Regions from separate parts of the Homo sapiens genome. Here region 2 is linked to region 1. Evidence: fine-mapped expression QTL. A gene starts in region 1. The other region holds a variant in brackets. All regions are shown on one strand. Distances are between the middles of the regions.

The links.
Region 2: its variant is fine-mapped to the expression of BMP2 in whole blood (TOPMed, PIP 0.97).

The regions. Positions count from the first base shown.
Region 1 is chr20:6,763,549-6,771,880 of GRCh38, reverse strand. It overlaps BMP2 (bone morphogenetic protein 2), which reads right to left and starts at 4,195. Exons shown (of 3, transcript NM_001200.4): 1 at 3,006-4,195; 2 at 1,409-1,761. The coding sequence starts at 1,754. LOC105372517 (a long non-coding RNA gene) reads left to right here and starts at 4,397. Exons shown (of 4, transcript XR_937229.2): 1 at 4,397-4,560; 2 at 5,076-5,481; 3 at 5,873-6,029; 4 at 6,212-6,288. RefSeq lists cis regulatory regions at 3,516-3,690, 4,331-4,430, 4,437-5,227, silencers at 4,062-4,111, 4,202-4,251 and promoters at 3,141-4,300, 3,690-4,331, 3,141-8,019.
Region 2 is chr20:6,885,848-6,894,179 of GRCh38, reverse strand. No RefSeq gene overlaps it. Among named protein-coding and RNA genes, the nearest start is that of BMP2, 120 kb to the right of the region's middle. The variant A/G (reference allele first, on the strand shown) is at 5,249.

The DNA of each region.
Region 1 (8,332 bases):
ATACACACAAATTTTACATATGACAACAGGTGATTTCTGCTTTCATTGGATGAATTCTGAAAGAGTGGAGTGAGATCTTACTGCCTTTCAAATCTGATTTCTGCTAGCAGAGAGCACCTCACTTAGAAATGTGCTTGTAAATGAACTGATGATCAATTCAGTGTCCCCGTCGTAATGTGTAGCTGCCTCAATGAGAACGTATCTTCTGCTATGTGGCTTGCCTTTGGGACTTATTCCCATTACCAACAAATACTCTCACAAGTATAAGTCACCCTTCACACTGGGAGAAAACATCTGGAAGTGCCATTTCCCATTAGTCTATTATCAGTGTAAATTTCCCACTTGAAATTTACCACCTAAGCAGGGAAAGGCAAGAAAGAGAACTTCACTCCCAACTCCCCAAATATCTGCCAAGTGGTTGCTCTGTGATATACACTTTTGTACTCTTTTCTAGGAATTGAAGAAACCCATGCTCTATTTTAAATGTATTAAGCCAAAGAAGCATTTAAAAGTGTAGAAAAAGAATTGAAGTGGAACATATTTTTGACTAATTGCTCTAAGAACTTAGGTACAGCAGACCTCAATAGCTGCTGTAAGACATTTCCAGTCCACTAAATGCCCTTCTGATGAAACAAGCAGAAATATCCCACCTTAGAAAAACCACATGTAGTATCATAAAAGAAAAAAAAATCCACATTTCGGTGCACATGAAAAAAAAACAGGCAGCTGCTACAAACGCTTTTATCTGAAGGCTTGCCTTGTCTCTACTCAGAGCCTATCTCAGATTTAAGCACAGGACAAGAAAGTCATTGTGGAAACAATAAGATTGATTGTAGTATTGATCTCCCACGGGGATTAGATTGGGATTCAAAATCTTCCAAACCAGGCCCAGATCAACTATAAATTAGAAAGACTTTGGGGCCCTGGGCTTTGATTTTTCAATACTATCTCTGAAAACTCTGCCCTTGGCTCTGTCTACCCTAAAACCCTGGCTTAAGCGGCAGATTTATAGAGCAAAAGCTTCCAAACAGACTTAAAGAAATCTCAATCTGCCTCCCTTTTTCTCCTTTTCCCTCTGTGGAATTCTTGCACGTTTAGCTGACTAGAGGCATGCCTTTTGCCCTCATCTTCCCCATCACTTGATTTCTCTCCAATTCTTCCAGGAGGAGTAGCTCTTCTGGCTGCAAGCCAGGAAGAGGGTGCGGAGTTACTAAAGGGGAATCCCTGGCTCCCCCACCACACAAGCAGTGAGTTAAAATCAGATTCAGAAACGATAGTACAGAAGCAAGAGTGGAAACGTCCGCTGGTGCCCCGGCCAAGCTGCCTCTACAGGGACGGCTGCAGTCTGCCCACGGTGGAGGGCTTTGCAGGGTGACTCCCCGCCCCCACGCCCTGCTCCATGCCTCACCTTCATGGTGGAAGCTGCGCACAGTGTTGGCTCGGCTGGCTGCCCTCTCCAACCGGTGGTCTGGGGCGGGTGAGCCCGGCTGACCTGAGTGCCTGCGATACAGGTCTAGCATGTAGGGGGGCACCACGGCGTCCCTGCTGGGGGTGGGTCTCTGTTTCAGGCCGAACATGCTGAGCAGCCGCAACTCGAACTCGCTCAGGACCTCGTCAGAGGGCTGGGATGAGGGGCGGCCCGACGACGCCGCCGCGAACTTCCTGCGGCCCAGCTCCGGAACGAGGCCAGCCGCGCCGCCCAGGAGGACCTGGGGAAGCAGCAACGCTAGAAGACAGCGGGTCCCGGCCACCATGGTCGACCTGCGGACAGGACCGACGTGAGTCACCCGAGTTCCCCGCCCAGTCCTCCCCCCTCGCGCCCCCGCGGCCCGGTCTCCCATTTGGCTGGCGTGCCTCCTCCAGGATGCCCTCCTGGCTTGGCACACTCACGAGTCTAGGTAAGACCGACCGAAGCTCAAACGTTTGGGATAATGAAGGGTCCCAAGTTCCTGAACCAGATGATTTATCGCTCCCATCCAACGCTTAGCTCGTCTGACATCAGATTTGGGATTTGCCCTCCCCCCCAACCAAACCAGCGCCAATGACTGTCACTTTTTTGTGTGTGACACAGCGCTGACAGCCAATGCCGGGAACCTGGGAAAACCACCGCTTGATCTGACACCCTGCGTCCCCTATACAAACCCAAATGCGGAGTGCTGAGCGCTGTCTGGCATATAAACACACATAAATGGTGCATGTGACTTCCTTAGAGGCACTGTATAGAACTTCCTGACACACACACACACACACACACACACACACACACACCCTTATAGCTTCCAGACCCTGTAAGCTCAAGGCCACAACTTCTGAAGCCACTTATGACTTGTGTCCCAGGCCCCTACCCTCAGGGGTGTCTCGAAAGGCAGCTCCATCCCGCATCCCCACAGTGCAGTCAAGATACACATGTATCTTCCCGGGATTACGTAAATGGTGAATATCTATTAATGCACGTGTCAGCTGTTAAAAACACAGTACCAAGTGATCCTTCAGTACTGACCCCTCGCATTTCTGGAAACAAGTAGGGAGAACCCCAAACTCCTAGTACTTTCCTAAATGGGACACGGCTCTGAGCAAAGAAACCAAGTCTCCCGGAAACACTTGAAGAATGGAGATCACCATGGCAGAGCGGACAGGTTCTCAGCTAACGGGTGAAACCCAGGGGCTACCCTCTCAAAGGGATTTCTTTGACCCAAAAAAGTTTTTAAAAAAATTAAAAATAAATAAATAAATAAATAAAACACCTCATCTAAGTGTTAACAGCTCCAAAAGTATTCCAGGGAGAGGGGAAGAAAGAGGGGTGGAAGAGTGCGGGCCGGGAGGGTGAGGCTTACGGTCGCCCGGGGCAGCTGGAAGTGGGAGCCCCTGCAGGGCTCCGTTGCACGTGGACTGGAGAGGGGTCTGTTTACTTCTGGCCTGGACGTAAGGAAGGGCTCTACCGCAGTGGCTGCCCAAATCCCCCTCCCACCCACCACCCACCCCGGGCCCTGGCCCGCGTCCTCTACCTTTAGGAGACCGCAGTCCGTCTAAGAAGCACGCGGGGACACGTCCATTGAAAGAGCGTCCACATGGAAAAACTCTGGTCAAAGGACCTGGCGCAAGGACCGAATGTCCGTTCCTTTTCTTTGCCTCCTCCTTCTCCCGGGTGCCGGCCGCGCAGTCTCTCTTTTCACGCTGGGAACAGCGTCTCAGTGTCGGGCAAGGCCGAGGAGTGGAGGGGCGGTGGGGCTCGGAGATGGCGAAGCAGGCTCCGCTGGGGCAAAGGCACCGGCGCAAAGTGGGGTGCGCAAGTTATTCTCCCTGCAAGTTCAAGAAGTCCCCAGCCAAGTGCTGACACACAACAACAGCGAGCAGGGGGAGGAGTGCGGGGCAGGGAAGGGAAGGGAGAAAGGAGAAGCTGGTGCTGTCGTCCTCCTTAGGAACCAGCGCCCGAGGGACGCGTGGCCCCGCGCGGGGCCGGCTCCGGGACTCGGGGGTCGAGGGTCGGGCGCTCCGCGCTAGCTCCGCCGCGGCCCATGGCTCGGGGCAGCCATCCTGGGCGACGCCGGGTCCAGGGAAGGGCACGGCGGCGATCTCGGTGCCAGGCGAGTTGCCCCCCCGCATCACTCTGCCTTACTCCAGTGCACCCCCATTCGCGCTCGCCAGTTGAAAGCACCGCGGCTCTGGCGCCCCGTCGTCCTCGGGCGCATTCTCCGGCGAGTCGAGCCGAGTCCCGGGCCGCCGAGGCGGGTGGCTGTGCTCTCCCCTCGCTCTCCTAGCCCTGGGGCCAAGTGCCCTTTGTGGCTAGCCTGGGGTCCGATCACACCTCGGCCAGCGCGTCCCAGGCCCCCGATCTCCTGCAGTAGGTGCTCCGCATCGCGGCGCTAGGGATCGGCTCCGGAGTCCCCGGCGCTCTGCGCGCCCGTCCGCGGCTCTGGCGCAGCCCGGGCAGCAGAGGCCACGGCGCTGTGGCGCGCTCTGCCGGGTGCTCCAGCCCGCGCGGGGTCTGCGGCGCGCGGGTGCCTCGCGGTCCCCGGTGATCCACTCGGCGCTGGCCCCGAGAACGTTCGGGTAGCCGGCGGAGGCTGTGGCGGCAGATGTGCGGCGGCGGCTGCCAGTCCCCGGCGGGGTGTGGGAAGCGGAGCGACTAGCGCAGCGCGAGCCGGGCGCAGCGCGGCGGGGCGAGGACTCCGGCGGCGGCGACGGCGGCGGCGGCGCCGTGGCGCGGCGCTCGCGGCTTTTAAAGGGGACGCCGCCTGCCGGCTCCCTCCCGGCCGCGGCCGAACACCTCCCCCTTCGCGGCGCGGCTCGCCGGGGATCCCCGAGCGGGCGGGAGCTGCGCGCAGGGGTGTGGACGGCGCGCCCGGGCAGCCGCGGCGGGGTGGGGCGGAGGGCGGGGGCGCGCGGCCGCCAAGGGGGGCGCTCGCGCCTCCACTCCCTGCTCTCAAAGGAGAGATCAGCTGGCGCGCCGGACCCTCGCGGGGACTCTGGAGGCGAAATCCAGGACAAATGCAGGGTCAGGGTCTGGCCTCTTATTTCCCCGCTGGGCCCGTTATTCAACTTTCAGTTTGAAGTTTTTCGGTAATATACGATTTCAAAAAACAAAACAAAACAAAACACCTCAATTACAGCGTATTTTGGCATAGCATAGACGTGGGATCCACGCTTCTGTTTCCCCGGAATAGGAGGAAAATTAAAAGAAAACAGCAGGCTGGAAATTGAGTGTTTTTAAACATTAATACATAGAGATGTATGTATTTACATATGTAAATGCATGTGTACAAATTTTTTTACATAAATGTGTATGCATTTATTTTCATATCCATACGCATGTAAATTTATAGTTACATAAATATATCCAATATACAAAAATATGTGCATATATTTCTATAAATATATTCATGTATGAGAATATATGCAACCGAAGGGCCACATTTCGGTTAATATGTCTATGTATGTGACATGGATGTCATCCTGCTTTACGTGACATGTGTGTAACGTAGACTGCGTGTGTGGCAGACTGAAGGATGGATGGGAGGGATTTGATTTTTTTATTGTACAATCACTTTGTGCCTTGTGATATTTATCTCACCCAGCTCAGAGGCAGGCGATTAGCAGCTCAGAGGAAGGTAAAATAACGCACTGTGTGAACCAAGCATACAGGACAATTCCAGTTTGGGACCTTGGAACCTTCTACGCCACCCTCTTCCACCAGGCCCCCAAGAAGTAGGGCTGTGACACGTGGCCAAGTCACTCCTCAGCTGAATATTCACTGAAGTCACTCCTCAGCCGAAATACTGCTCAGAGCTGCTGCACGATGAGTCTGGGGCCAAGGCTTTCTGCCCTTCCCAGGATTCCAGGAGCCCCCATGCACAGCACCTCGGGCTTGCCCAAATGATCCCCAAAACCAAGGGCAGAAAATTTTTGGAAAAGGCCAAGTTCTGCTTTCCCAGAGCTATCGGGCCTGCGAAACAGAGAGAAAAAAGTCAGAAGCAGGAGCTGGTAATAGAACTATTATCCATGTGTATTATTTTTTCGGTAGGGGAGCTAAAATAATACTAGGTTCCGCTCACGTAAATCGGATTAGCAACCCACAGAGGCGAATTAGGCACTTGCTGTTTCTAAAGGTATAAAGGTCAAATAAGGTATTTTGGAGGAAGCCTGACTACCAGGAAAATAAAAGGGGGTGGGGGAATTATTCAGGAACATGCTACTTTATTTCCTGAAAAAAAAAAAAAAGGTGCTATAGAAGTTGATTGTCACTCAGAGTCATTGCACCGCAAACAAGGAGGCAATAAAACATATCCTACTCATGGACACAGGGCTTCTGAAATTATTTCCTTTCCTATCAAGTTTAATTGAGAAGTTAACAATTGTTTCTCTCATTACTTAGATTTCAAAAACAAAACAAAACAAAACTTCAATGAGATTTAAGTAGCTTTTAAAGAGGAGGAAAAGTTGATAACTATTGGATGCACCCGAAGAAAAAATAAATAAATATCCTGTGATGACCTCAAGGATGTCTTGCAGCTTTAGAACTTCATAACCTGGTAAGTGGAAACCTTGTCAGTTTAGAATCTGAGGGAAAATGGGTACTTCTGAACACTGTTTCATGTTAGTGCTGCCCATTGCAGAATCTCTTTTATGTAGGGTGTATGATTTCTGAGGAACTACTGAATGCTTGTTCCAAGCACAACTTACATAAATTTTGGCCCTATTTTTTTTTTTTTAGAGATGGCTGCCCTCTTGTGGTGGAAATGAGTTCGAACGCTTGAAAGAAAGAAGTCCATAAATAAATAAATAAATAAATAAGTAGTCTCCAGAGACTGATTTGGGATCGAAGTACAGGATGACTGTACCTACCCGTTTTCCAGGGAAGAGCAATAGTCAGAAATGATAAATCTAAATACAGACGAGCTATTTCTTTTTTTTTTCTCTCTCTTCACTAATGGCTACCTTCCACCTGCAACTTAGAATGCTGGGTTATTTAATACTTTGGGAGAGTGTCTGTTTGCCTTGAAAATATCACTTGCAGCTAACCATTGTCAATTCTACCGTTTTCAAAGGTCCATTCAAAGTTTTTCAGTTCAGAGGGTGAGATTCAGTCTTGCTGAGTTTATCAGACTTAGTGCATCTGCCAGCAAATGTGGAAGGGGCAGAGGTGGGAGTGGGGAGTTGTTTAAGATAGGGATAGTAGAAGTTGCAAATTCAAATGCATCAGAGGGTACAGACAAGTTATGTAAAAAAGCAAAGATGACCAGATAATGATTCCACATAAAGGAGGTTGTTGCTATTCCATTTCAGTCATCTCTTGGCAGTTTCTCAGGAGATAGTGGAAATTTGCATTTGATTGTGTGTGGACAAGACTCGGGATGAAATTAACTGCTTACAGTCATACTTTAGCAATTTTAGCACTTCAGCTCACATGATATTCCATTTTATTGCATTCTGTAGCTATTAGCATTCAGTATTGTTCTTGCTAGGCCAAACATTATGCAAATCAACATTAAAATAGTGATCCCCATGTATTGTAAAGTTCACAGCAGGCATTACGTGATCCATCTACCTTGTAATTGTCATTCCATGGAAACCTGTGGCAACTGCCCTGAGAAACCCTCTTTGCTTTTTAGCATACATATCGCTTTGTTACAAGGGTGACACCCATAACCATCCCTACTTACTTTACCTGGATGAAGTTTTTTTTACAGGAACTTGGAGCCAAGGCAAAAGAGAAGCATTTAGTCAATCAAATGTTTTCCTTTTTGGTGTTTGATTAGACATGGTAGAAAGGATGGGAGAGGTGGAGTGATTTATATCAGAAACTAGGCCAAGTTGGCCAAATCAGGATCACTGCTTTCAGCAAGTACCAACTACATCTTCTTAAAAATTAAAAAGAATGAATTTTGTGCATTGATTAGACTGTCACACAGTTTAAGATGTACACCTTAAGTTATGTCTGTAAACTATGTTGATAACACTCTAAGATGTAGTTGGGTGACCTGGGTTCTAATTCCTGGTTCTGTCATGGATGACTGACTTTAAAATGGTCATTTCATCTGTTAATTGGGGTAAATAAATATATGTTTGCTTGCTTCAGACTGACATGATGAAGGTCAAATGGATAACATGTGTGAACTTAGTTTCTGATTGCTACTCACTCTATGTATCTTCAAATGTATTCTTTGGCCTTCTGTCTGCAATATGGCCTGGTTTTAAGAAATAGGACTTTGGATGCCTTTCTTCTCCTCCTCTTTCTCCTCCTTCTCCTTCTCTTCTCCCAGCTTTTATTATATTGCCAAACAGTGGATATTTCATCAGAAAGGCCACCAGTTGGGTCAGTCAATCTAAAGCAGAGGTCCCCAACCATTTTGGCACCAGGGACCAGTTTTGTGGAGGAAAATTTTTCTACAGACCAGGTTGGGGGTGATGGTTTCAGGATGAAACGGTTCCACGTCAGATCGTCAGGCATTAGTTAGGTTCTCATAAGGAGCATGCAACCTAGATCCCTCATACATGCAGTTCACAGTAGGGTTTGAGCTCCTATGAGAATCTAATGCTGCTGCTGATCTGACAGGAGGCAGAGCTCAGGCAGTAATGCTCCCTCACCTGCCCCTGGGGGTTCCTAACAGGCCATGGACAAGTACTATTCATGGCCCGGGGGTTGGGGACCTCTGATCTATGGCAGTAACAAATTCTCATAGCCTCGGCTCCCTCATGAATACTCTATAGAGACTAACAGTTGACTTCTCATGGAGGTTGTGAAGAATAAATGAGAAGATATGTGTGAAGACAACAAAAGGTTGCAAATTTGTATTACTATATACATGCAAATTAAGGCCATCGGTTCTGGTTC
Region 2 (8,332 bases), 120 kb before region 1:
TGTATTTCCTCTCTGATTCTTTTATTGCCTAAAGCATTTAGCCGTTTCTGAACTAATTATGTTTCTAGGTTTATCTATTTATTTAGTATCTCTCTCACCAGACTAAGTTTCCTGACTGCAGAGACTTCGTATTTTATTGCTTTAGTGTTTAATATCATTTCCAGCATCACATATATATATATATATATAGGTTAGAAGACCAGTTGAATGTGTAGAATGAATTGATATTTGGGTAGCCAATAAAACTGATCAAGGTCCGTCTTTTTGGATGCACCTAGTTTAGCAAGCAGAAGATGTGTTTCCTAATGTGGCCTGGGCACAGTCTTTAGCCATTCACCTTTTTCAGGAATTGATTCAGCCTCTGCCCTTCCCAGAAGAGCCACATCCAGTGATTAATCAACATGGAAGTAACCAACTCGGGACAATTTTGAAGGGCTATTTCAGCTTTAGAGCCCCCTGTGAGTTTGGCCAAAGCTGCCAAGGGGCCTGTATCACAACTCAACTTCTCCATTTGCCCGTAATAAACATCTTTCATGCTAAACCAGTGAGGCTAATCTCCAAAAATGAAAAAGCAAAAAAAAAAAAAAAAAAAAGCAGAAACTCAGGCACCAAAGTGACTCAGGGTACTTCTTTTAGCCATTGAATCAAGTGGTCTCAGCCAGTTATAAGGACAAAACAAGCATTAGGAGAGATGCAACACAGCTGTCAATTTCAGGAAGGAGATGGTGGATCTGGATTATAGGTAGATAGGGTGTGCTATGAGGCTCAAGGCTGCCAGGTCTGAGGAGCCTTTAGTTCTCCAAAGTTTTAGGTCAGAGAGTATGGCCATTGGAGCAAATAACTAGTCTGCCTCACCCCTGCCTGGTTGAGAGAACTTGTTGGAAGACCTCTGCTTGGAAACAAGCACCTACATCTGGCCTCATCAGAGAAAGAGGGGCCTCCTGTGAGGGTCTTTTCAAATGCTGCACCTGCCCTGGTATGTCCTCAGGCTCTCCTTCTAGTTCCTGGGGCCTCAGTTTACCCACCTCTACATATTTCCTACATTACTTCAAAGAGGTGCTGGGAGACTTAATTAATGTTTGTCAAGCACATCTTATATGAAAGGAATCGTATGCAGTAAGTTCAAAGTAGTCTTGGCCCTGCTGTTTCTTTCATGTGTGCTTAGAAGATCTTTCAACCTTGATAAGAAGAAAAAAATAAATAAATCCCCACTTGCTGAAGTGCTTGGATTTGGACTGTCATATTATGATGCTGTCAGCATTTTCTTTGAATTTCACAGGAAAAAATGAATAAAAATCAGTCAAACAATTGCTTCCATAATCACATCATCATTCTCTAGGTGGTCAAGCAATTAATTCTCCTGCTTCTGTTCTTTCTTCTGCTTTTGCTCTTTAAATCCTCTGACTGAAACTTCATTTAGATCCTTATCACTGTCTCAAATATGGCAAATTTAAAGTCAGGCAAACCCCATCATGATAAGAGCGCCTTTCCTTAAATATATGGGTTTTTTATTTTGTTTGTGTCCACCCCATGCTCAAGTCCCATATGTGATTCCCATGCCTTCAGACTAAAACTCAATATTTTAGGAAGTTATTCTTAATGTGGTCCCTGTCTACATATCCAATCTCATTTCCCACCGCCATCCCTTCCAACACACACACAGCTTTGCCTTTAGTTCTCCAAAGTTTTAGGTTTTGGCTGCAGGCATAATACCTCAGTTCCCTTCATCATCTAAATCTCAGCTTTCACTTTCTTCTTCAAGACTTATCCTCCTCCTAACCCAATATATACCCCAACTTTCCTAACCTATGCATCCCTCCACCATATCTGGAGTGTGAAATAATCATTTTTGTATCTAGCTTACCATTGGTCTGCAGGTTCCCTAAGGAAAAGGGTGATATCTTTCATCTTTGTATCCACAGTGTTCCCAGGACACTAGAGATACTTGATACATATTTGTAGGATAAATATACATGAGTAAGCAGGGAGATGATGATGAGGCATTTTTAAAACCAATGGATTTCGGAAGCAAACTCTTTTCTAACCAAAAACAAGCAAACAAAGCAAGGGACCTGTTGGTTTTTGCATGAATGGATAATTCCACAAGAGTTGAGATAGAACAGGATGGAAAATCTGATGATCATTTTATATTTATTTATTTAATTTTTTTTTGAGATGGAGTCTTGCTCCATTGCCCAGGCTGGAGTGAAGTGGCACCACAACCTCCGCCTCCCAGGTTCAAGCAATTTTCCCGCCTCAGCCTCCTGAGTAGCTGGGACTACAGGCATGCACTGCCATGCCAGGCTAATTTTTGTACTTCTAGTAGAGATGGAGTTTCACCATGTTGGCCAGGATGGTCTTGATCTCCTGACTTCATGATCCAGCCACCTCAGCCTCCCAAAGTGCTGGGATTACAGGCATGAGCCACTGCACCCAGCCCTGGTGATTATTTTAAAATTGGAAAGTCTCTAAGACATAACTTCTGGAAAAATGTCACCATATTTCATTTGCAATTCATAAGGATGACAGGCAGGGCAATCAGCTAGTCAGATGGAGGAGGAAAAAACAACTGATTAATATCAATCTGCAACTAAATTCAGTGTGGGGCCAATAGCAGGAGAAATGAGAGACAGAACCTAAATGTTATCATTTATCATTTGTGCTGTAGGCCTAGGGTTTTGAAACCTGGGTGATCATTGGAATTGCCTGGGAAGCAGTTGAAAATACAGATCCCTGGGCTCCATTAGTGACCTAATGAATTGGAAACTCTGGGATGGAAAGGGAAGGGGTAGATGAGGGATCTGTATTATAAAAAGGGCTTCCATTTGATTCTGAAAATGAATGAATTTGAGGAACACTGACCTATGATTCATTCATTTATTCATTCAAAAATGTACTCAATCACTGGTTTTTTATCCACATATTCATTTATTCAATGAATGTTGGTGATAAAGAGAACAGAAAGAGGCTGGGCGTGGTAGCTCATGCCTGTAATCCCAACACTTTGGGAGGCCGAAGTGGGCAGATTGCCTGAGCTCAGGAGTTCAAGACCAGCCTGGGCAACATGGCAAAGCCCTATCCCTATTAAAATACAAAAAAATAGCCAGGTGTGGCAGCATGCACCTGTAATCTCAGCTACTGGGGAGGCTGAGGCAGGAGAATTGCTAGAACCCAGGAGGCGGAGGTTGCAGTGAGCTGAGATCATGCAACTGTACTCCAACCTGGGTGACAGAGTGAGACTGCATCTCCAAATAAATAAATAAATAAATAAATAAATAAATAAATAAATACCAGAAAGAAGGAACCTAAAAGAAGAGAAGAACAGCTCCTTTGTCTTTGTTCCTGGTGTTTTGTTTCTTTCTAGGTTTTTTCCTCAAGTTGCTTCTGATTTTTGTTATTATTTTATGAAACTCTCTCTCCATTTTGTAAGGCAGAAATGCTCCAAAATCACAAAACTCCTCTTTATCTTTCCAGGATTACCTTCCTTAAAGAGTAATCTGAAGGTTAATGCACCTTTCCCCAGTGTCAAAATCCACCAAAGAAAAATATTAACAAAGCTATGGAAACCTATGGACAATTATATTCTTCTCTGTCCTTTCTGCCCTTCCTTTCTTCGCCCCAGGCTGACATTCAGATTCTGCATCCAGAATGGCCTGAAGGAGGAGGAGGGTTATTACTCCTGGCAGAGAAAGCCTTAAATTACGGTGAATAAATGAATACTTAGCAGGCTGGTCCTGAGAGGGTGCCAGCTCTTGCTTTAATCATTTAGATAGAAAATGATATGGATTGTAAAATTCATGGAAGGTTCAACCTAAAGGGAGGGAACCTGGAGCAAGGAGGAAGAGGACTTTTCAAATAATTAAGAGAACCTAATAGAGTAATGTTCAGTTAACAAGACCTGTACCAGGTATGGCTTCCACTTCTGACCCTTCATGAGGGTTTTCTTCTTCCTGCCAAGAAGCCAGTGCTCGAATCCACACAGTACTCCAATACACTTTTATTATGCAGTGGAGCACCTAAAATCTTGCTATCTAGTTTAAAACCTGTCAAGGAGAGTAGAGGGAAGCACTAGAAACAGGAACTATGCAATCATAAACTTGTACTATGGGAGACACCCTAGTGAACAACAACCCCCTCACCACACTTTACTGTTTAGATTCTGGCTCCCTTTCAAATAAGAAAGGTACAATATAGCGATTATTATTATTATTATTTTTTTTTTTTTTGAGTTGGAGTTTCACTCTTGTTGCCCAGGCTGGAGTGCAATGGCACCATCTTGGCTCACCGCAACCTCCGCCTCCTGGGTTCAAGCAACTCTCCTGCCTCAGCCTCCCGAGTAGCTGAGATTACAAGCATGCACCACCATGCCCACTAATTTTATATTTTTAGTGGAGATGGGGTTTCTCCATGTTGGTCAGGCTGGTCTGGAACTCCCAACCTCAGGTGATCCGCCACCTCAGCCTCCCAAAGTGCTGGGATTACAGGCATGAGCCATCGCACCCAGCCCAATATAGTGATTATTTTTTAATGGGCAATAGTAATAATCCTTCTACTTAAATAGGATTTTCCACAGGAGGAAGCTTTGGGTTTAATCAATAGGATTCACTCTATTTGCCCACGGCTTAGAGGCCAGCAAAAGTTCAGCAACCTTCTTCAATTCACATGGTCAGTTGAGAATGATCCATTTGCAAAACTTAAACATCAAGATAATCCAATTCTGCGGAGGGTGCTGCCTGCTCTGCTGCCATATGAGGCATTTGTGTGAGAAAACCCAAGCAGCCAAAACTCATACCTAATCCTTGGGACTTGGAGATTTCATTTACCTTAAGTCTTTTGGGGTTGAGTTATCTTGGCAACCTGTAGCGTCTAAGCATGCAGTATCTGTATCAAGGAACGGCTTATAAAATTCATCCAAAAGGACTCCCAAGATTCTGGGGGCATCAAATAGCTCACACACAACATTTTGCAAGGAAATGAGTCAGCACTAGGTAGATTCCATTTTTCAAGTAGAGTGCTAGCTTCCTGTCCTACTATCTCCAGTCCTGGGAGGAGAGCCTCAACGGGGAGAGGAAGATTGAAGATTTTCTGGGCATGGTGAGCTTGGGTTTCCTTTGAGCCGTAAGTGTTTATGAAAACAATAAGGAATATTAGATAATATCAAAACATGTTCAAGATGACTTTGCTTTAGGCAAAAACCATGCATTTCTAAAGCTAGCCATGGGCCTCCTAAAAGTTCCTCTTTGTGGTC[A/G]CTAACCCAAGTTGACTGACCCCAATACATTTAGCAACAAATGATGAGTTTACATTCATGTTCTCAGCACCAAATTCTTTAATCTTTAGCTTTGTAACTTAATAGATATACTGTGAGTCTTATAAATGAAGGAATACAAATAAGAACCAGGTCTATTTGGTATCTGTGATGCACCAGCTCTACAAGAGGGGCTTTTCCAGTAAATAAGATTCAAATTTACCAATATCCTTTAGAGTAGTCAGTCGTTATGAGATGGGCTGTGGAATGAATCTGTCCTAATTCATTCCCGGATCCTCCACCCATGGCTGGGTGACCTAATTTAACCCCTCTGTGCCTCAGTTTTTCGGTCTGTAAAGTGTGGATAAGAAGACCTTCTAGTTCAAATATCAAGTGTCTTAGGCCTGCAAACGAACAACTTTTTAGTAAACTTTTAGAGCAGCCTTCTAAAGCAATCAGGGAGGAGAGGGAAAGATACACAAAACAAGCCAGTTGGATTTTGCCAAAATCAGTTCCTTGTCCCTGTCAACCACCTGGCTTCATGGTCATTCCATGTCCCCTGTTTTCCCAAGGACATAATCAGGGATATAGCTACTTTGTGCCTCACTGCCCCTGGCTGTGGGCTTCCCTGGGGAGATCAAGATAGGCTTTATAAGTCCTTTGCCCCGTCATGAAACAGTACCCTGACTACACACTCAGCCTGGTCTGGTATGAGCACCCACTTCCAGTCTAGACGGCAGCCTAAGAGAGGGGCTAATGCTAGGTTGCACCAGACTGAGCCTCATACTTGTCATGGCTCTGCCCACGGTGATTCCTTTGATCTTGATCCTAGCAAACCACAGTCATCGACAAAGGTAGAATGGATTTCTGCTTCTGAAAAGCTTTGATGGAAACTCCCTTGATTTCCCATTCCCTCCCCAGCCCTTCTGCTCCTTTAGATTTACCTCCAACATTTAGTCCTAAATCCAGCTGTAAATCCAGCCTGAGAGAGCCCATCAAACCGGCATGATTCATGTGCCATCCTGTTTGGATATCTGGGGCCATAGCTGACCCACTTGGGAAAGTACACGGTCATTTTTACTTCGCCAGGCATCCTAATCACAGATTCCAGGCTCAGTATTCTTTGTTTAATTTTCTCTGAGAATTGGCTGGACTGTGATCTGATCCTCAGAGAAAGGCAATCATTTCTAAAGGGTAGATTTTTAGAAAAGTTTGCAATTACAAACAACGAAAAATATATGCAGGCTTTCTGCGGTTATGCTGAAGGAATGTGCAGGACATCCATGCCCCTGTCATCTCAAGGCTCTCTTCTAAAATCAGGACCTGTTTCCAGGGCTCTTTGCAGCAGTGTTTCCCTTTCATTTCTTGTGTGAAGAAAGGAAGTAACTTGAGAAAGCAACTTTTAAGAAACTTGAAACACGTTTACTTGTTTCCCAGGCTTCAGGTTAGGGCTGATGGCTCCACAAAGTAAGTGCAGCCAGATTCATGAAACTCGTAACGTTTTGGAGGTGATGTCTAACTGACCGTCTCATTCTACAAATGAGAGCACTAAAACCTTGGAAAAGCTAAAGCTTGCTGGAGGCCTAAGTGATTTCACAAACAGAGCTTGTCTGGAACTTAGTACTTTTAATTCCTAAGCCAGTGCCTATGCCCTAAGCCAATAGGTAATCCAGTGGGCAGTGGTCCCCAAGGCAGGCCAGGCCTGAGCTACTGATAACCCTCTTTATCCCAGTCCTGTGAAACATCAATTTCAGTTAATGCCAATAGCTTCAGGGGCAGTTTTTCAAAGCCCTCTCTCCAGGACATCAGCCTGGATGCAGAGCACAGAGAAATAAAATAATTTACATAGTTTACTAACTCTAAAACTCAGAACTGAGAAGAGAAAGGGCCAGTTTTTCCATATGCAGACTTCAACCTTCTCAAGACCCAAATGACAGGTAAAAATACACATTCGAATGTCTCTCCTTGCACACACACCGTCAAGACCACTTTGCCTTCCCTCTTTCCCAAAGCGAAAGAATGGATATGCTGGGAGTGTTTGGTAGCCTGCTATCAGAAGAAAATAGAGACATCATCATTTTCCCTTTTTGACATTTTTTTTTCCTGCCAGTAAAAGAGAGAGAAACTTGCTTAGGGATCAAAATATTAGCTGGAGAAAGAATTTACAGGGGTGCTGGCAGCTGGTTGGCTGTAGAGGGAGAAAGCCTGTGGGGTGTGGACCGCCAGTCTCGGAAAAGCGCACTGCAGAGCAGGGTGCAGGAGAACCCAGCAAAGCAGGATTTGACAGGTGCCTGGCTCAGGCTCCCACTGGCCAGGCAATCGTCAGCTCTGTTCTGCTTGGCTCTCTTAAACAACAAGTTAAGAGCCAGCTGCTTTCTGCGCTTGGCTCTGAAATCAGCAGGTCTCTCTGCTCTGTTCAGCGGAGGCATCCCCAGCAGGGAGTTAGTCAGGGTACTGGCTAGAGCCTTCATGCCTCAGAGTAAAGGCTTATGAAGGAGGTAATTACGCAGCTGGAAATGGGCAGGCCCTTAGGGCAAAAGAGAAAGAAAGGAAGGTGATCTTCTCACTTACTTAATGCTTAAAAGAAAAAAAATACCCTATGCCTGTCAAAGAGAAGCATCCTAGTATTAGTGGTGCTATGATCAGAGATCCCCTCTCCCTTACCCATTGTGTGGTTACTAAATCAACACAGGAAGCCTGTCCACAAGACTTCAATGTCAACATTGCCCGCCCCTACCTGACCACCAATTTTGCATTGATTAGCTTCCATGATTCCCTGTCAGGCAATTTAGTTGTTTAGTTGCTGGTTAGTTGTTTCTATTTTCCTGAGCATTCTTCTCAAACCTGTTCCCAATGTTTATACTCTGGAGCTACTGACCACCCTTTCCTTTCCCGAACTCTTCCACTGTCATCAATTCCTCGAGAGGTCAACATTACTGCGGGCAGAAGGAAAGATGGCTGACCCTGGCCCTGGACTTCCTTCCCTCTGACACACTGAATACCCTTCGTCAAAAAACCATAATCCAAACTGCAATGTTGGTGCCTATAAGAGAGCTAGTCCCGCTCTCCTCAGAGAGCCCAGCTTGG